Linked DNA regions of Homo sapiens. The protein of the gene in region 3 purifies or fractionates together with the protein of the main gene of each other region. This does not show direct contact. Each region holds a gene or a part of one and is shown on either strand. Other genes may lie near its edges.

Region 1 (5,113 bases), on a different chromosome or scaffold from region 3:
TGTTACACAGCAATAGCTAACACAACCACAGGAAATACCTCAACTGTATAAAGCTTTTAGTATCCCTCCCTTTCCTCCTCTGGATCTTCAGCCTGTGTGCACAGTCGACAACCAGGAAAGTCCAGTGCTTTTCATGTTTGACCAGACAGTTGGACTGTCAAATCGGTGTCTAATTACACCTCTGTTATCTAAAACTGTGTTGATGGAGTCCACTGAATTTGATTCCTAAACCATCACTAATCAATCTTTCTGTGTCAGCTAAAAGCAACATAGCTTGGTTTTCTTGCCGAGTGGTGATGATCTCTACTGTCCTGTGCTGGAAGACACCTACAGAGGAATAGGTGGTGCCAAGATCAGTGACAACTGCAGATAGCTTTGATGTGGTTTTGCAAGGGGCGGTGTCTAGCTTAGAGGAAAAAAATGTAGACACTAAAGTGGAACATAGCATTCAATAAGCCATGGTAGGTTTTTGAAATTATAAATCATGTATTTTTTATTTTTATTTTTTTGAGACAGGGTCTCACTCTGTCACCTAGACTGGGATGTAGTGGCGTGATCATGGCTCACTGCAGCCTCAAACTCCTGGGCTAAAGCAATCCTCCTGCCTCAACCTCCCAGGGTAGCTGAGACTACAGGCACATGCCATTATACCTGGCTAATTTTTTTAAAAAAAAGGTTAGTAGAAATGAGGTCTCATTGTGTTTCCCAGGCTAATCACTTATTTTTGATGTGATACAAGGTGAATGTGGGGATTGGTAGGAAATATGATTGAAAAACAGAAACAATAGGAAGGACCTTGTATATCAAGCCAGAACACTTGAGGCAATGAGGGAAACTGGAGGTATTAAAATTAGTTGGAGGGAATCAGAAAAGACAATCAGTAGACACTAATATCAAGAGGTATCTGAGGTTAGGTATTATTAGATGATGTTAGAGCAACCATCATAAAAATGATTCAACAAGCAATTCTGAACACATTTGAAACAAACGAAAAAGCAGGAAGTCTCTGCAAAGAAACAGAAGATACAAATAAAAAAACATGGAAATTTTAGAACTGAAAAATATAATAAATGAAATAAACTCAATGTTGGGCAGCAGAACGAATGTAACAGAGGAAGGAATCAATCAACTAGAAGATGAAACAAAGGACATTACCCAATCTTAACAGAGACAAAATATACTGGAAAAGAAGTGAACAGAGCCTCAAAGACCTTGTGAAATGATAATAAAAGATAAAATGTAGATGTCATAGAATTATGGCAGATTTCCGTCAGAAACCATGGAGGTCAGAAGGAAGTGGCATGGCATTTTTCAGGTGCTGAAAGAAAGAAAACTGTCTACCTAGAATCCTATTTCTAGGAAAATATCCTGCAAGAATGAAGAGAAAATTAATACACTCTCAGATGAAGACAAACTAAGAGAATTTGTCTCACTAGACTTACCTTAAAAGAATGGCTAAATAAAGTTCTTGAAAAAAAAAAACAGTAAAAGAAATCTTAGAAGATCAGAAGGAGAAAAGAACAGAAAGAATAAAAACATGGGCACATACAACAGACTTTGCTTTTCTTAGTTTTCTAAATTATGTTTGATGGTTGAAGCAAAAATTATAACATTATCTGATGAAGTTTTCTATGTCTGCAGAAGAATAGTTAAGAAAATTATAAATACGGAAGGGTAAAGGAATATAAAAGAAATAAGAATTCTTTTTTTTTTTCTGCATCCAATCATCCATTAGGGAAATAAAGATTCTATACTTCATTTAATCTGCAAGATGTTGAAATCAGTAGATTGTAATAAGTTATATACGTAAGATGTAATAACCAGAGCAACTACTAAATATCTATGCAACGAGATATATTAAAAAGTAACATCAAAATGAAATACCAAAAAATTGTTTCAGTAACCACAGGAAGACAGGAACTTTGATACAAGCAACAATTTGGATGGATCCAAGTTGAGGGCATTATGCTCTGTGAAAAAAGCCAGTTAAAAAGTCACATACAGATCGAGACCATCCTGGCTAAACACAGTGAAACCCCATCTCTACTAAAAATACAAAAAAAAATTAGCTGGGCTTGGTGGCGGGTGCCTGTAGTCCCACCTACTCAGGAGGCTGAGGCAGGAGAATGGCGTGAACCCGGGAGGCAGAGCTTGCAATGAGCCAAGATTGAGCCACTGCACTCCAGCCTGGGCAACAGAGCAAGACTCCGTCTCAAAAAAAAAAAAAAAAAAAAAGTCACATACTGTATGACTATCTATATAACATCCTCAAAATGACAAAATTATGGAGATGGAGAAGAGATTACTCACTGCCAGGGGTTAGGGACAGTCCGGGTAGGGGGAGGGCAGTGTGACTATACAGGGTAGCATGAGGAAAAGTGATAAAACAGTTTTGTGTCTTTTTGTTTTGTTTTTTTTGAGATGGAGTCTCGCTGCAACGCCCAGGCTGGAGTGCAATGGCATGACCTCAGCTCACTGCAACCTCCACTTCCTGGGTTCAAGCGATTCTGCTGCCTCAGCCTCCCGAGTAGCTGGGACTACAGGCACGCGCCACCACACCCAGCTAATTTTTGTATTTTTAGTAGAGACAGCGTTTTACCATATTGGCCAGGCAGGTCTCGAACTCTTGACCTCAAGTGATCTGCCCACCTCTAGCCTCACAAAGTGCTGGGGTTACAGGCATGAGCCACCGCACCTGGCACAGTTTTGTGTCTTGATCATGTGGTTGCATGGATCTATAGATGTGGCAAAATGTCACAGAACTATGTGCACACATTGTACTAATGTCAATTTTCTGTTTTCTATGCTCTTTCCCCATGTGGTCTACCTCCATCACTACAGCTTTTTTTTTTTTTTTTTTTTTGAGACGGAGTCTCACTCTGTCATCCAGGCTGGAGTGCACTGGCTCGACCTTGGCTCACTGCAACCTCCACCTCCTGGGTTCAAGTGATTCTCCTGCCTCAGCCTCTCGAGTAGCTCGGACTATAGGAGAATGCCACCATGCCTGGCTAATTTTTGTATTTTTAGTAGAGACAGGGTTTCGCCATGTTGGCCAGGCTGGTCTCAAACTCCCAACCTCAGGTGATCCATCCGCCTCAGCCTCCCAAAGTGCTGGGATTTCTTAATACACGTCTCTTTTCCCGACTTTGCTTCTGCCCTTCTAAATGCCTGCATGACGGAGCTAATTGGATATCTTGTTGCTACTCTAATCTCAGCATATCTTAGATTTAGTCTGTCACCTCCCCTCTCTGACCTCTCATTATTGTTTTTCCACCTTTCTACTTGTCACCTCCAGGCAAACATCAGTCATCCTTTATTCTTTCTTCTCCATGGCCTCTTATTACCCATCACTTGATTTGTCTTACATGATTCTTTCTTAAATTTATTTCTATTCTCACTGTCACCATGACAGATCAGAAGCAGTCATGAACTCTTGCTTGAAACTTGACAAGAACTTACTGATGGACCATTAGGCTTCCAAACTCTCATCTTATTCACCAACCTTATCTAGTCTGTAGAGCTAATATCAGAAGATCCTTTGACACAAAAAATTGAAGTGACTGTACAGAGGACAAGAAGGGGAAATATAAAGAGATTTGAATGGAAGTCAAACAAGATATTTCTCTGCAAGCAGTTAAACATATTCAACTTATAGGCGACAACGTGTCTTTTTCTCTCATTAGAAGTGCAAAATACGTACCTTAACTCTTCGGCCAATGCTAAGGAATTGACACGTTTTATCGTAAAGTCCTTCCAGGTTTTCTCTGTCCCAGTAGAAATCAGGAGTAATCAGGAAGTCTGAACTCAAGTTTATACGGTGCCTTTAAAAAGGAAAATTATAACTTTTTATTTATCTTGAATTAAAAATCATTGTTTCTATTGTATTTAATATTTACATAGTGCTTTATGAAAACTTTTTTTTTTTTGGTAAGAGAGAGGGTCTTGCTATGTTACCCGGGATGGAGTGCAGTGGTGTGATCACAACTCACTGCAAACTGAACTCCTGGGCTCAAGCTGTTCTCCTGCCTCAGCCTCCCATGTAGCTGGAACTACAGGCATGTGGCATTGCATGTGGCTGAAAACATTTGTTAATGCTGACCTTTGCAAAATACTGCCAACAAACATGTAAATAAAATTTACAAATGAGTTTCAAACTTCTGAACCAAATTAATTCAATCTTTAATACCAACATTATTTATGAAGTACACAGAAAAAAACTCATTTTGTTTTCAATTTTTTTTTTTTTTTTGAGACAGAGTCACTCTTGTCACCCAGGCTGGAGTACAATGGCATGATCTCAGCTCACTGCAACCTCTGCCTCCCAGATTTAAGCAATTCTCCTGCCTCAGCCTCCCAAGTAGCTGGGATTACAGGTGCCTACCATCACACCTGGCTAATTTTTTGTATTTTTAGTAAAGGGTTTTACCAAGTTGGCCAGGCTGGTCTCGAACTCCTGACCTCACGTGATCTGCCTACCTCAGCCTCCCAAAGTGCTGGGATTACAGGTGTGAGCCACCATTCCCAGCCTAAACTTTTTTTATTAAAAATTTTAGGGCCAGGCATGGTGGTTCATGCCTGTAATCCCAGCACTTTGGAAGGCCAAGGCGGGCAGATTGCTCGAGTCTGTGAGTTCAAGACCAACCTGGACAGCACAGCGAAACCCTATCTCTACAAAAAATACAAGAACTAGCCAGGTGTGGTGGTGTATGCCTGTAGTCCCAGCTACTTGGGAGGCTGAGGTGGGAGGATCATGTGAACCTCGGAGGCAGAGGCTGCAGTGAGCCAAGACTGTGACACTGTACTCCAGCCTAGGCAACATAGTGAGACCCCATCTCAAATAAAAAAAAAATTTAATATGTCCACACTTTTTTGTTTTTTATTTAAAAAATTTTTTTAGAGATAATGTCTTCATATGTCACCCAGTTTGGGGTGCAGTGACACAATCATAGCTTACCGCAGCCTCAAACTCCTGGGCTCAAGTGATCTTCCTGCCTCAGCCTCCTGAGCAGATCAAGATATAAACAGGTAAAAATTGATAAATCTTAACTCTTATTCTTATCTGTATCTTTCCCTATCAGTAATCCCTTCTAGTTTCCGCTGTATCCTTCCAGTG
Region 2 (4,161 bases), on a different chromosome or scaffold from region 3:
ATAAAATACAATGCGGGGCAGAAACAACATCAAAGCCACTGGTGTGATTTTAAACCAGGGAGATTAACTGTTTTGAGGTTTGGCTGAACCACCCAAAATAATTTAGTAGTTTCCGCTAAAAATGTAAACTTACAAATAAGAGGGAGACTGCTTTGAATGATAATACCAATGCGTCTGCTCACAGTACAGCTTGAAGGCCCCCTCCTGTACCCCCACAAAAAAACTCAAAAATAGGACTGAGATGCCACAGCCAAGCGGGCTGTTCACTCCAAAGCCTCGGCGTGGGGGAGGCTTCCAGCTGCCAGGCTGGCCTGCACTGAAGGGTCAGACGCCAGACTGTGGCTCCAGAGCAGACTGAGCCATCGATTCTCAGGTGTCTCTGCAAATAAAGTTCTCAAAACATCTGTGCCTTTACCAAGGGAGGGGAAGGGAAGAGGATACATAAAAGCTGGCAGTTTTGTTGAATCCACCCCGAACCAGTCCTTGACGGCCACGGGTCTTAGCCAGGCAGGTAGGGATCTGTGACTGTTACCACTCCTTCTTCTTCTCATCCATGGAGACACCCCCAGGGCCCAGGGCCACCACCAGGAGCAAGCCCCCAATCACCGACATGGTCTGGAAGAAGTCGTATTTCAGGAAGTCATGCATGGGCTTGTAGACTGGAATGGTCCAGAAGGCGTTGAAATATACGTTGATGGCAAAGAGCCACACAACAAGAGTCAAAGCAGCCAGCTTGGTTTTAAAACCAATGGCCACTAAAATCATCAGAGCTGTGCCCACGATGTTCTGGACAATCTGCATAGGTTGAAACGTAAGAAATTCAAAATAAATGTGAGGAAAAGAGATGCTTTATAAACAAAAGTTCCAGCTGCTGCACGTCATGAAGTCTCTATCCATCAGGCTGATGTAGCTACTGCTGAGACGGCTGCTGGTGCAAGTAGGGAGATAAAAGCCAAAGGGAGGCAGGAGGCAATAAAGCACCAGCTTTGAAATGTGGAAGGTTTGGGGAAGACTGAAGTTCCCAACTAGTAACAGGCTGTGATTTACCAAGATGAATCTCTAATCCATAACTAAATTCCCAAGTGCTTCTTGGCCCACCCAGCCATCCAGGCCAGAAACATCCTCTCTCCTCTCTCCATGGCGCCAGGAGCTCTTCCTGGACACTACCCGGCCAGGGCTCTCAGTCAGCTCCGGAGGTGTGCTCTGGAAGCTCCTGGAGGCCTGCCCCTGACACCTGACACACAGGAATTACTTGAGAAAGATACGAACAGTGAGGAAAGAAAGAAGAGTAAGGGGAGCCCGGGTGGAGAGCCTTGGCCAACCAAGGGCCAAGCACACTCCACCAAGGTCAGAGGTTCTGGCCTTCATTTGCTGGAAAGAAGGCTTGACACACAAGAGATTGACGATGTTTTGGTCTGTTTTAATGGGATCAAAAAGTTTGCTCCGCCGAGCACGGTGGCTCACGCCTGTAATCCCAGCAATTTGGGAGGCTGAGACAGGCAGATCACGAGGGGTCAGGAGATCGAGACCATCCTGGCTAACACGGTGAAACCCTGTCTCTACTAAAAATACAAAAAATTAGCCAGGCGTGTTGGCAGGCGCCTGTAGTCCCAGCTGCTCGGGAGGCTGAGGCAGGAGAATGGCGTGAACCCGGGAGGCGGAACTTGCGGTGAGCCGAGATCACGCACTGCACTCCAGCCTGGGGGACAGAGCGAGACTCCGTCTCAAAAAAAAAAAAAAAAAAGTTTGCTCCATTTCAGCAGCTCCCCCAGGCTGTGGTTAATACCCAACCAGGGAGGGGTGAGCAGGGAGGGGGTGGGGGAGGGACAGCATTCACAGGAAACCAGACCGGTTCAGGCAAGTAGGAATACTTACAGAAAAGAAGCTGGCGTCAAAGTGAAGGAGGGTCATGAACATCAGAACCAGCAAGACCCTGCCTCCGAGCTGCATGTACTGTTTGGGGGAGCTCTCACGCATGGTGGGGACGCCCGCAAACATGCTCTTCCCTTCAGAACGGGATTCTGCTAGGAGCAGCAACAGGCCTCCTCCCAGGGCCAGGTTCCTGAGGAACAGATATGTGGGCTGGAAGCTAAGCCTCACCAGGATCTGGCCTGTCTGTGAGACCAGGTGCAGGGAGACCTTGCTGCCAGTATAAGAAGGCCCTTACTTCCCTTTCTCCAAACCCAGTGATCTGCCAAGCAGGACCAGGCAGGCATGCGCACAGGACCTCAGACTCGAGTTACACCCATGTAAAACCTTACATAGCTCAGGAGACAGAGGTATCTTTACAACTCGACAGTGACAGGCTACCTGAACACACACACAACCGAGTCCTAGTCACAGCTTCAGTGTTGACCAGCTGGGTCCCCGTGGTCAGGTCTGTCCTCCACTCAGACCCGGAGTCCCCACACCCGTGAAATAAGGGTCAGAAGAGACGGCTTCAGTCTCTACTATTCTAGGGGCTCTGCAACATCCTCTTCAGAACCTGTTTCTAAGAGGCACAATTTAGACAGGGGGGTCCAATCTTTTGGCTTCCCTGGGCTACCCTGGAAGAACTGTCTTGGCCACACATAAAATACACTAATGCTAATGATAGGTGATGAGCTAAAAAATAAAACTTAAAAATCACAAAAAAAACTCTCAATGTTTTAAGAAAGTTTTTGAGTTTGTGTTGGGCCATGTTCACCCCGTGGACCACAGGCTGGACAAGCTTGGTTTAGACCCAGAGAAGTCTACTCAAACCAATAGTTAACTGAGTTTAGAAATACAGATTGAGTATCCCTAACCTGAAATGCTTAGGACCCAAAGTGTTTCAGATTTTGGTATATTTGCATTATATACTTATTGGCTGAGCATCCCAAATCTGAAAATCCAAAACCTGAAATGCTCCAATGAGCACTTCCTTTGAGCGTCATGTTGGTGCCCAAGATTTTTCCCATTTTGGAGCATTTCAGACTTTGGATTTGCAATGCTCAACCTGTAGAAGGAGCGTATACTAAAACCAACCAGAATGCACATACCTCATCAAAAACTTCAAGTCCCATAAAATGCTGTAGGCAATCGTCTGAGGGGAAAGAAGAGAGAGATACTTGAGTCTCAGCCTTTCCAAAGGCATTTCCACAGACTTCATAATACATTAGGCCGTCTCTCCAATGTCAGCTGGAGTCTAAAACACACAAAACCATTGTAGGAGACCGAGGACAGATCTAAGCTCAAAAATGTGGTTCTGTATTTCTCAAGAAATGTGCTATGATGTTCCAGAGAACAAAGTGATTCTGAGACCACTGATGTGGATTCAGATATTCTGTTCCCAGCATTTCATTCTGAATAACCAAGTATTCTTCTTTATGAAGCAACGTGATAACAAGACAGCATCCTGGCTGCAGCCAAGCTCGAGACTTCCCTTGTCACGGTAATCATAGAAATGGGACAAAAGATGGCCCAGTACCGAATGACCTGCCTCTACAGCCCTGCTTGGGCTCACGACTTCCCCAGAAGAGAAAGGAGCTCCAGGCAGTCAGAGACATGCAGGGGGCTGAAGGGGGAGTGACACTGAACCCTCAAGGATGTCTTTTCAGAAGCTCTGCTCCACCAGAGCAAAGAGAAGGGAGCCCCGACCACGCGGCCCGTGTACCTGCAGAGCTATGATTCCAAAGAGCCCGAAGCAGGCGTACTGCACGAAGTTCCTGCTCAACACCAGGACGCAGCCAGCTGGAGAGAAGGACAAGGGTTAGGGGGCCTGAGGGTGGGTGCCGGCGGGGAGCACTGTCTTGATACACTGCTACCTCACCTGGCCCTTAGGTCCAGAGGCAGCCAAACCACCTACCCAAGCAAAAGACAACTTCTGGAAGAATTAATGATAGGCAAGGACCACACATGGTAAGCTGACTAGACTTATCACAAACACCAGAAAGTGGAGCCCTTGCCGTCATAAAGAATGGGCTGTTTCCCACAATCAGCTCCCAAGTCAGCCACCCACCTGAGGTAGGCAATTAACTGCTCTACTGTGGACTGCCAGCCAGACTCCAGCATCTCCTGCTTTGGGTCCCTGACAGGGACCATGTCCTATTTCCTTAGCAAGCTCTAAAGCAGTGAGCTCAGGGCTAGAGACTAAGCGTCCCCACCAAGGCTTGCAGAACCGGACTCCTGGCCTGGCACAGC
Region 3 (5,113 bases):
ATTCGCCTCCTCTCCTGGGACCCTCACTCGAGGCTCGGGTCAGGCTGGGGGCGCCTGCTGGCTCCCCCTCTGCAGCTGACAGCCTCCGGCCCCCCAGGAGGACCCAAGAACAGGGAGGCCGAAGGGCATCAAGCCTTCTTCACCTGACAACAGGGCCCCAGGCCTAAAAGCGCCACTAATCCCTCCCTCGGCCGTGGGACTCCCGAACCGCACATACAAGTCCTGAGTGATACTTGTCACAGCCCATGCCTGCCCACTAAGCCGCCTTGAGCCCCGCACCCACTGAGGGCCTCTCTCAACTACGACGGCAGCGTGTGCGGACAGGGATGGCACTCTCGGCTCTGCCCGGCCTGCTCTGCCCTCGGCCCTGAGCCCCTGCACCAGGCCTCCGTGGATTGCCAGGCTCAGGGTGCAACACTGGCGGGGGCAGCCCAGAGCCACAGGCAGAGCTGTGAGGGAATTCCTGAACTCCATTCCTTCTTACTCCAAAACTACACTTCAGGGGCGGCCACGCACCCTGCCCAGCCCAGCAGTCGGCATGTCCCTGTGCTGTGACCAGCCCTGCCAGGCCCCCAGCTCTCAACCACAGCCCCATTTCACAGAAGATGGAAAAGGGGCCAGGCTTCAGGCCACCTGGCTAGGACCACAGGCGAGCACGGCCCCACCGGCTAGAGGGCAAGGGCACCAGGGTACCCAGAAAGGACCAGCTCAGGGCCAGGCCACCTGCTCCTCAGAAGCCACCCCAATCCCATCCCCACAGAGAGTGTGGTCTCCGTCACCCCTGGGGGCTGCTCTAGGACAGGCACCCAACAAGACCACGGCCAAAGTTCCACAGCCCCAGCCAGCAGCTCAGGAAGAACAGACTCATCTCCGCCCTCCCCACGGCCACACTCGGCCCGGATCCTCCCCATGTTCACACTCGGCCCAGATCCTCCCCACAGATGGATCTGCCTTTAGCGAGAAGTCGGAAGACCAGCCCCAGCTGCTGCCATCTCTGCCTCCTGCACCCCCCTCCTGCCCCTGAGAGCTGGCCCAGCGGGGGACGCACAGGGCCGTACCAGCCTCTCCCTGCTGACGATGAGCAGCCCGCGTGCTCCGCTGCCCTGGGCCAGCCTCACTTTCTCATAGAAGGTGCAGTTCCCCCGCGCCACCAGCGGGATCTGGTTGCTGAAGCCACGGGCGGGGAGGTCGGCTGCGGAGCAGAGCAGGGAGGCCGTCCAGTTGCGCAGCTGCAGGAAAGACTGGAAAGGCCAGGGCACAGTGTTGTCTCACGTGATGTGAGTCACCAGGAGGGCCCAGCTGCCCGTTCTCCCACCTGAAGCCTGCGCTGAGTTAGATCCCAGCCCTCACCTAAAGCCCCGCACGGCCTCGGCCCACCTAGGCAGAGCCATCCCTACTGCAGCTCCCACAGCCGGACCCTGGGCGACGGGCTGGGCTGCCTCATCTGAGCGGGGCCGGAGTCCTCACAGACATGGCTGTCCCCTGATACCTGAGCCACCCCGCGAGCCGTCACAGATCACTCAGCAAGACCAAGTGGGTCCCCACCGCAGCCCCACCACGGCCAGGCATCTGTGAGAAGGGGGAGGGTTTCCAGTGTGCAGAGAACAAAGCCCCAACTCTCAGGGGCCTCACAGCCCCTGAAGCCAAGACACACACGCACACACACACGCACACGCACACACACACCCACAGCCAGGCCGGAACACGCGCACACACAAGCACACGTCCACAGCCAGGCTGGAGCACACGGCACACACATGCATACATGCACACACACACACACACCCACAGCCAGACCAGTGCACACGCACACACCCACAGCCAGGCTGGAGTGCACACACACACACACGCACATAGCCGCAGCCAGGCCAGCGCGCACACACACACACACCCACAGCCAGGCTGGAGTGCATGCACACACACGTGCACACATACACAGCCAGGCCGGACCACATGGCACACATATGCACACGCAAGCACACACATGCACACTCACACTCAAGCAGACACATGCCTATTACACACATGCACACACACACGCACACACAGCCAGGCCAGAGCACACAGCACACGTGTGCATATACAAGCACATACCTGTGCACTCAAGCTCACGCACACACACCTATTACACACACATGCATACACACACGCCACATGAACTCACACACTCACACGCACATACCTATTACACATGCACTCACACACACTCATGCACACACACGAACCCAAACACACAGGCACATACACATCCACACACAAACCTATTATCCACATGTACACACACATACACACAGACCTATTACACATGTACACACGCACACATGTGCAGACACATGCACACATCCACAAACATAACTATTATGTAGCTACATGCTTACACACACCTGCACACATACAGACACACATGCACTCACACATCCATACACAAAACTATTGCATGCACACTCACAGGCACATGTGCACATAAAAACAGACATACACATTCAGACCCATGCACATGCCCCCACACACCTATTACACACATGCTCACACACACAGGTGTGCTGACACACAAACACGCACTAAGGCACACATGTCCATGCACATATCTAGTACACATGTGCTCACACACACAAACTCAGAAATATGCACTCAGGCACATGTCTTCACACATACCTATTACATGTGTTCACATACCTATTACATGTGTTGACACACACCTATGTGTTCACACACAAAAAAACACTCAGGCACATGCACACATACACTGATGCAAACTCACATAAACATGCAGACACATGAGCATGTCCAGGCACATACTGATTACACACGTGCTCACACGCACACACTATGCATAAAGCTGACAGGAAGATGCTAGTGCCTCTTCGCCGGCACACCTCGAGGGCTCCAGGAGGGGGCGGGACACAGTGGGAAAGGAGGCGGGGCCTGAGGGACTCAGTGGGAAAGGAGGCGGGGCCTGAGGGATGCGGTGGGAAAGGAGAGAGGGCCTGAGGGATACGGTGGGAAAGGAGGCAGGGCCTGAGGGATGGGGTGGGAAAGGAGGCGGGGCCTGAAGGATGCAGTGGGAAAGGAGGCAGGGACAGAGGGGTGTGGTGGGAAAGGAGGCGGGGCCAGAGGGATGCAGTGGAAAAGGAGGCAGGGCCTGAGGGATGAAGTGAGAAAGGAGGCGGGGCCTGAGGGATGCAGTGGGAAAGGAGGCGGGGCCTGAAGGATGCAATGAGAAAGGAGGCGGGGCCTGAAGCATGCAGTGGGAAAGGAGGCGGGGCCTGAAGCATGCAGTGGGAAAGAAGGCGGGGCCTGAAGGATGCAGTGAGAAAGGAGGCGGGGCCTGAAGGATGCAGTGGGAAATGAGGCGGGGCCTGAAGGATGCAGTGGGAAAGGAGGCGGGGCCTGAAGGATGCAGTGGGAAAGGAGGCGGGGCCTGAAGGATGCAGTGGGAAAGGAGGCGGGGCCTGAAGGATGCAGTGGAAAGGAGGCGGGGCCTGAGGGATGCGGTGGGAAAGGAGGCGGGGCATGAGGACTAAGTGGGAAAGGAGGTGGGGCCTCTGAGGGAGGGACTCATCCAGCAGCAGGTGTTAGTGCCCCAGTCAGGAAGACGGTGAAAGGAACAGGTCTCGTCCCTGGGGCCCCACTGTGCCCTCTGCTGTTACTCCTCTGAGGACCCCTCTGTCTGGGCCCACTGGATAGGGTCCCCGGCATGGAGCAGTAGAGACCCTTATCTACCACATGGAGCTCGGCCGGTGCCTCTGGATCTGCACCCCAAGGCCGCATGGACAGCTTGCATTGATGACCAGGGTTGGGGAGGCCCAGGGGAACTGGGGGCCAGCTAAGAGTCCCCCAGACCTGGTCAGGGCCTGCCTCTCGCCTCTGGATCTTTCCTGCAACCCCAGCCGGATGTGTCTCTAGAGCCCCGGGGCCCCCGCATTCTCCTCCGCAGCGGCGCCCGGCCAGCGGGTACTCACTGCCTTGCTGAGGTCGTGCGGAAGATGGGCCCACTGCGGGTTGTAGAGGATGCAGTAGTCTTTGCCTTCGGGGCCCCCGGCCTGGGAGACCACGTGCACCATGCCGTACTCACAGGCCACCTGCAGGACAAGGCCAGCAGTCAGAGCCACAGCACGGGACGTGCGGGGCTGCACCGCCCCACGAGAAACAGGCCCGAGGAGGGGAGGACGCCTCCAGGAAGGGCGCCCATGTTCACCAGGTGGTCTGGGATGCTTCCCCCTCTCGACAGGACAGACAGGGACGTGACCATACGTGGTTTACAGCAAAGACCCAGACTGGCTCACCTTCCTCAGGGAGCCCCAGGCTGGTGACCATGAGTGTGTCAGGTCACCCCTTTGTGGCTCCCGAGTTTCTGCACCAAAAAACAGGGATCGCACCACCTCCTGGGCCTCCCAGGATCAGTGGGCACGGTGGGAGAATGACAGCCACGGGCAGAGCCACGGGCAGAGCCCTGAGCAGGGAAGCAGGGCAGGGCCCCAGCGGACCTGGCCCCCAGCCTGGGCGGGAGGCCTGGACAAGCAAGCCTCTGCACCCCTCAGGTCTGGGTGGCCTTTGACCCACAGCCCCGTGGGCACTGCTTGTTGGCTGGTGCTCCAAGGCACACGGGGGCCCAGGCACACGGTGGGGCCCAGACGAGGGGGATCCCCAGATCAGCACCCCTCAGCTCCCACTGGTAGAACAGCAGGAAGCAGGTGGGCCAAGGGGCCTACGGGCACCGGGTCCTGAGTGGGACAGGCTGAGGTTTGCAACAGGTCACGCTGCCACCAGCAGGACAGACAGCGTCATGTTCCCCATGAAGCCCCAAAGCAGCAGAGTCCAGCACAGCAGCTCCCACTTCGCAGGAGGGAGAAGGAACAGCCAGCCAGGGCTTCAAGTTCCTGCTCTCCAGCCTGCAGCAGCAGCAGCTCAGAGAAGGCCACAGGGAGAAGGCCCGGATCCACGGGCAGGAGCCCCTGACACACAACGGGGACAACAGGCCAAAGCCAGCCAAGAGAAGCAGGGGTGGTGGCCACCGCGCCCAGGACAGAACGGGCTGGGGCCCTTGCCACGCTCTCAAAATGAAGTAGGGGGCAGGACCAGGCCCCAAAGCCCTGGACGCCTCCCAGGAGGG
Region 4 (5,113 bases), on a different chromosome or scaffold from region 3:
AGTCGTGAACCACCATGCCTGGCCCACAGTTTCGTTTCGTTTTTTTCTTTTCTTTTCTTTTCTTTTCTCTTTTCTCTTCTCTTCTTTTCTCTTCTCTTTTCTTTTCTTTCTTTTTTTTTTGAGATGGAGTCTCACTCTGTCACCCAGGCGGGAGTGCAGTGGCGTGATCTCAGCTCACTGCAACCTCCATCTACCAGGTTCAAGCTATTCTCCCACTGCAGCCTCTCGCCGAATAACTGGGATTACAGGCGTGCTTCACATGCCCAGCTAATTTTTGTATTTTTAGTAGAGACAGGGTTTCACCATGTTGGTCAGGCTGGTCTTGAACTCCTGACCTCAAGTGATCTGCCCACCTTGGCCTTCCAAAGTGCTGGGATTACAGGCATGAGCCACCACACCTGGCCTGTGGCCCACAGTTTCTTAATTCCTTTCACGAAAGAATTCTCTGTAGCATGCAATGCTGTTTGATAGCATTTTACCCACAGTAGAACTTCTTTCAAAGTTGGAGTCAATCCTCTCAAACCCTGCTGCTGCATTATCAACTAAGTTTATGGAATATTCTAAATCCTTTGTCGTCATTTCAACAGTGTTCACAGCATCTTCACCAGGCGTAGATGCCATCTCAAAAACCTACTTTCTTTGCTTATCCATAAAAATCAACTCCTCATCTCTTCAAGTTTTATCATGAGATTGTAGCAATTCAGTCCTATCTTCAGACTCCACTTCTAATCCTAGTTTTCTTGCTATTTCTACCACATCCGCAGTTCCATTCTCCATTGAGGTCTTGAATTCCTCAAAGTCATCCACGAGGGTTGGAGTCAGCTTATTCTAAACGCCTATTAATGTTGATATTTTGACCACCTGCCATGAATCACAGATATTTTTAAAGTCATCTAGAATGGTAAATCCTTTCCAGAAGGTTTTAAATTTATTTTGCCCAAATCCATCAGAGGAATTGCTATCTATGGCAACTATAGCCTTATGAAATGTATTTCTTAAATAATAAGAGTTAAAAGTTGAAATCCCTCCTTGATTCATGGGCTGCAGAATGGATGCTGTGTTAGCAGGCCTGAAAACAACATTCATCTCCTTGTGCATCTCCACCAGAACTCTTGGTTGACCAGGTGCATTGTCAACGAGTATAATATTTTGAAAGGAATCTTTTTTTCTGAGCAGTAGGTCTCAACAGTGGGCCTAAAATACTCAGGAAACCATGCTGTAAACAGATGTACTGTCATCCAGGCTTTGTTGTTCCTTTTCTAGAGCACAGGCAAAATAAATTTAGCATAATTTTTAAAGGCCCCAGGATCTTCAGAATGGGCAATGAGCAATGAGCATTGGCCCTGTGGTTGCTCATACCTGTAATCCCAGTACTTTCAGAGGCCAAGGTGGGTGGATTGCTTAAACCTAGGAGTTCCAGACCAGCCTGGGGAACATGGTGAAACCTTATCTCTACAAAAAATACAAAAACTTGCCAGGCATGGTGGTGGGCACCAGCTACTTGGGAGGCTGAGGCAGGAGGATTGCTTGAGCCCAGAGGCTGAGGCTGCCATGAGCCATGATTGCGCCACTGTACTCCAGCCTGGGTGACAGAGCAAGACCTTGTCAAATAAATAAATAAATAAATAATAAGATTTATTGTTAAATAAATAAATAAGACCGCAGCTACACTGGCCTCTAAAAAGAGTCCGCCTGTCCTTTGAAGCCAGGCATTGACATCTCTTGTCTAGCTATGAAAGTCCTAGAAGCCACCTTATTCCAATAGAAGGCTGTCTTATCTACATGAAAATTGATTTTTGAGTATAGCCACCTTCATCAATTCTCTTAGCTAGATGTTCTGGGTAAGTTGTTGCAGCTTCTTTTTTTTTTTCCCCATTGATCTTTGATGTTACTATGTTGTAGCTTCTCTATCAGCACTTGCTGCCTCACCTTGCACTTTTATGTTCTGGAGACAGCTTCTTTCTTAAACCTCATGAGCCAACCCCAGCTAATTTCAGACTTTTCCTCTGCAGTTTCCTCACCTCTCTCAGCCTTCGTAGAATTGAAGAGAGTTAGGGCCTTGCTCTGGATTTAGGCTTTGGCTTAAATGTTGTGACTGGTTTGATCGTCTATCTATAGCATTAAGATTTTCTCCATATGAGCAATAATGCTGTTTTGCTTTCTTATCATTTGCATATTCATTGAGTAGCACTTATTTTTATTTTTAAGCATCAGAGGTCACCACACTGGATGGAGTAGCACATTAACTTCCTTTAAAAACTTTTCCTTTGCATTTATAATGTGGCTGTTTGGTGTAAGAGGCCTAGCTTTCAGCCTGTCTCCTATGTTGGCATTCGGCATGGCTTCCTCACTAAGTTTAATCAATCATTTTTGGCTTTGATTTAAAATGAGAGATGTACAACTCTTCCTTTCACGAGAGATGTACAACTCTTCCTTTCACTTAAACAGAGGCCACTGTAGGGTTATTAATTCACCTAATTTCAATATTGTTGTGTCTCAGGGAGAGGCCTGAGGAGAGGGAGAGAGATGGGGAATAGCTGGTCGGTGGAACAGTCAGAACATAGACATTTACTGATAAAGTTCACTGTCTTCTATGGGTACAGTTGGTGGCGCCCCAAAACAATTACAATAGTAACATCAAAGATACTTATCATAGATCACCATAACAGATATAATAATAATGGAAGAGTTTGAAATATTGCAAGAATTACCAAAATGTGACACAGACACAAATTGAGCACATGCTGTTGGAAAAATGGTGCTGAAAAACTTGCTGGATGCCGAGTTGCCACAAACTTTCAATCTGCAAAAAATGCAATGTCAGCAAAGTGCAATGGAGTGAAATGCAGTAAAATGAGGTATGCCTGTATTTGAAATGATGAATTATGAAAAATATTAAAATAACTTGTAATATTAGGAAAGCGCAGAGGAAAGTTTAAAACTTTCTGCTTAATTCAGCAAGACTTAAAAAAAGTGAAAGTTTATAACTTGTCATTTGATCATACTTTTTTGCTGGTTCCTGGATTCATATGGTTCAAAATCCAAAAGGTTCCGAGGGTTCCTTCTCTCGCTGCTCCTACCCACCCGTTCCTCTCCCTGGAGCAGCAGTGTGTCCTGTTTCTTGGGTATCCTTTCAGAAAAATGTACTTTTACTGCTAACTTTAATGCTTGTTTCTTTTACCACAGGACCTTATGGATTTTCTGAACCCAAACGGTAGTGACTGTACTCTAGTCCTGTTTTACACCCCGTGGTGCCGCTTTTCTGCCAGTTTGGCCCCTCACTTTAACTCTCTGCCCCGGGCATTTCCAGCTCTTCACTTTTTGGCACTGGATGCATCTCAGCACAGCAGGTATCTTCCATTGGTGGGGTTTACGTCCATCCTCCTGGCTGATGGTTGCAGTTATTTGGAGGTCCTAATTAGTTAAGTTAGAAGCAGAAGAGGGGGGGCATGAACTGTGTCCTGGGATGGAAGGCAAGGCAAGAGTGAATAGTGAGGATTATCATACTCCTGAGGGAGCTGGTGGTGTCACTTTATGGAGGCCCCTTAAAGAAAGTGGGCTGTTCTCTGTGTGGTGGATTTAAAGGTGGCAGGTGGTAGCACCTGATGGCAGGGGAGGGGCCAGAAGACTTTTGAGGGCCATAGCCAGACTGAATCAGCACAATTGGTATCACAGTAGGATATTCCTTTGTGACTTTAAGGCGCAGGTTAAATCCCCATCCCAGGCAGCCCAATTCCCAGCACCCCTGTTTTGTGTCTACTCAGGATTTCTTCCCTTCCTTTTCTTTTTCTTTCCTTCTTTTCCCTTTCCCTCTTTCCTTCTTTCTTTCCTGCGTACTTATTCTTGCAGTCATGTTCTGTAGTAGGCACTCGATCAAGTCATGAATTAATTTAGCTCTTTAACATGACATTTATCTTTGTTTTATATTTCTCGTGTATCATTCACTGGGTTTTTGTCCAGGCTGGCCTTGAACTCCTGGGCTCAAGCGATCGTCCTGACTTAACCTCCTGAGTAGCAGGACTACAGGCATGCGCCACCATGCCAGGCTGGTCATTTTTTTTTTCTTTTTTTTTTTTTTTTGAGGTGGAATCTTGCTCTGTCACCCAGGCTGGAGTGCAATGGTGTGATCTAGGCTCACTGCAACCTCTGCCTCCCAGGTTCAAGTGATTCTCCTGCCTCAGCCTCCTGAGTAGCTGGGATTACAAGCACCTGCCACCATGCCGGCTAATTTTGTATTTTTAAACGGGGTTTCACCGTTTGTTGGCCAGGCTGGTCTCGAACTCCTGACCTTGTGATCTACCAGCCTCGGCCTCCCAAAGTGCTGGGATTACAGGTGTGAGCCACTTTTTGTCTTTTTTAAATGTTTAGTAAAGTAAGTTACAGAGAACTTTGTTGAGATGGTATATGTTTCTCCTAAGTGCTGCGATTGTGCCTGAGTTATAAACTGTTCTTCTCTTCCAAATCAGATGCTCCTTAGTAGGTCAGCCTCAACAAGGAGGTTGTGTGTAAATAAATCTAGAACATCTGAAAAATGGTCAATTGGTGGTAAAATGAAGTTGAGTAAACTTCCATTACTCTGTACTTGAGGCCAGGTGCAGTGGCTCACACCTGTAATCCCATCACTTTGAGAGGCCAAGGTAGAAGGATTGCTTGAGCCCAAGAGTTTGAGACCAGCCTGGACAACATGGCAGAACTCCATCTCTATAAAAAAAAATACAAAAAATTGACTGAGGATGGTGGCACATACCTGTGGTACCCCAGCTACTTGGGAGGCTGAGGTGGGAAGATTGCCTGAACCAGGGGAGGTCAAGGTCACAGTGAGCCGTGATCCTGTCACTGCACTCCAGCCTGGGCTACAGAGTGAGACCCTGTCTCAAAAAAAAAAAAATTGTATTCCACTGATTTTCATTGTGGGAATATAACTGCCAATGTTTACCTGAAACTTTTATGAAGAAAGAAATGGCTCAACAAATTAGTAATTTTCATATAGGCTTCTGGGTTATATCTAAGTGACTGGGCCCAAGGGAGCAGACTGATTGGAAGGACAGATCACGTCAGTGTCCAGCTTTGGTGGGGCCTCCACTGCCCCCAGGCATACTCAGTGCTCTTTGGT

What was found.
Region 1: the proteins of SPPL2B (region 3) and RMND1 purify together in Homo sapiens (co-immunoprecipitation; 3 studies listed by BioGRID and IntAct, with this or other methods). This does not show direct contact.
Region 2: the proteins of SPPL2B (region 3) and SURF4 purify together in Homo sapiens (co-immunoprecipitation; 3 studies listed by BioGRID and IntAct, with this or other methods). This does not show direct contact.
Region 4: the proteins of SPPL2B (region 3) and TXNDC15 purify together in Homo sapiens (co-immunoprecipitation; 3 studies listed by BioGRID and IntAct, with this or other methods). This does not show direct contact.

Annotation. Positions count from the first base shown.
Region 1 is NC_000006.12:151,413,579-151,418,691, forward strand, and holds part of RMND1 (required for meiotic nuclear division protein 1 homolog), read right to left. Parts: intron 3,822-5,113; coding exon 3,701-3,821; intron 3,694-3,700; exon of another isoform or gene 3,503-3,693; intron 1,971-3,502; exon of another isoform or gene 1,840-1,970; intron 1-1,839. UniProt on the Homo sapiens protein: Required for mitochondrial translation, possibly by coordinating the assembly or maintenance of the mitochondrial ribosome.
Region 2 is NC_000009.12:133,362,965-133,367,125, forward strand, and holds part of SURF4 (surfeit locus protein 4), read right to left. Parts: intron 3,712-4,161; coding exon 3,635-3,711; intron 3,065-3,634; coding exon 3,021-3,064; intron 2,063-3,020; coding exon 1,876-2,062; intron 796-1,875; coding exon 529-795; 3' UTR 512-528; coding exon of another isoform or gene 500-511; 3' UTR 1-499. UniProt on the Homo sapiens protein: Endoplasmic reticulum cargo receptor that mediates the export of lipoproteins by recruiting cargos into COPII vesicles to facilitate their secretion.
Region 3 is NC_000019.10:2,333,571-2,338,683, reverse strand, and holds part of SPPL2B (signal peptide peptidase-like 2B isoform 2 precursor), read right to left. Parts: intron 4,083-5,113; coding exon 3,963-4,082; intron 1,242-3,962; coding exon 1,059-1,241; intron 1,053-1,058; exon of another isoform or gene 1-1,052. UniProt on the Homo sapiens protein: Intramembrane-cleaving aspartic protease (I-CLiP) that cleaves type II membrane signal peptides in the hydrophobic plane of the membrane. Functions in ITM2B and TNF processing.
Region 4 is NC_000005.10:134,890,306-134,895,418, forward strand, and holds part of TXNDC15 (thioredoxin domain-containing protein 15 isoform 1 precursor), read left to right. Parts: intron 1-3,186; coding exon 3,187-3,350; intron 3,351-5,113. UniProt on the Homo sapiens protein: Acts as a positive regulator of ciliary hedgehog signaling. Involved in ciliogenesis.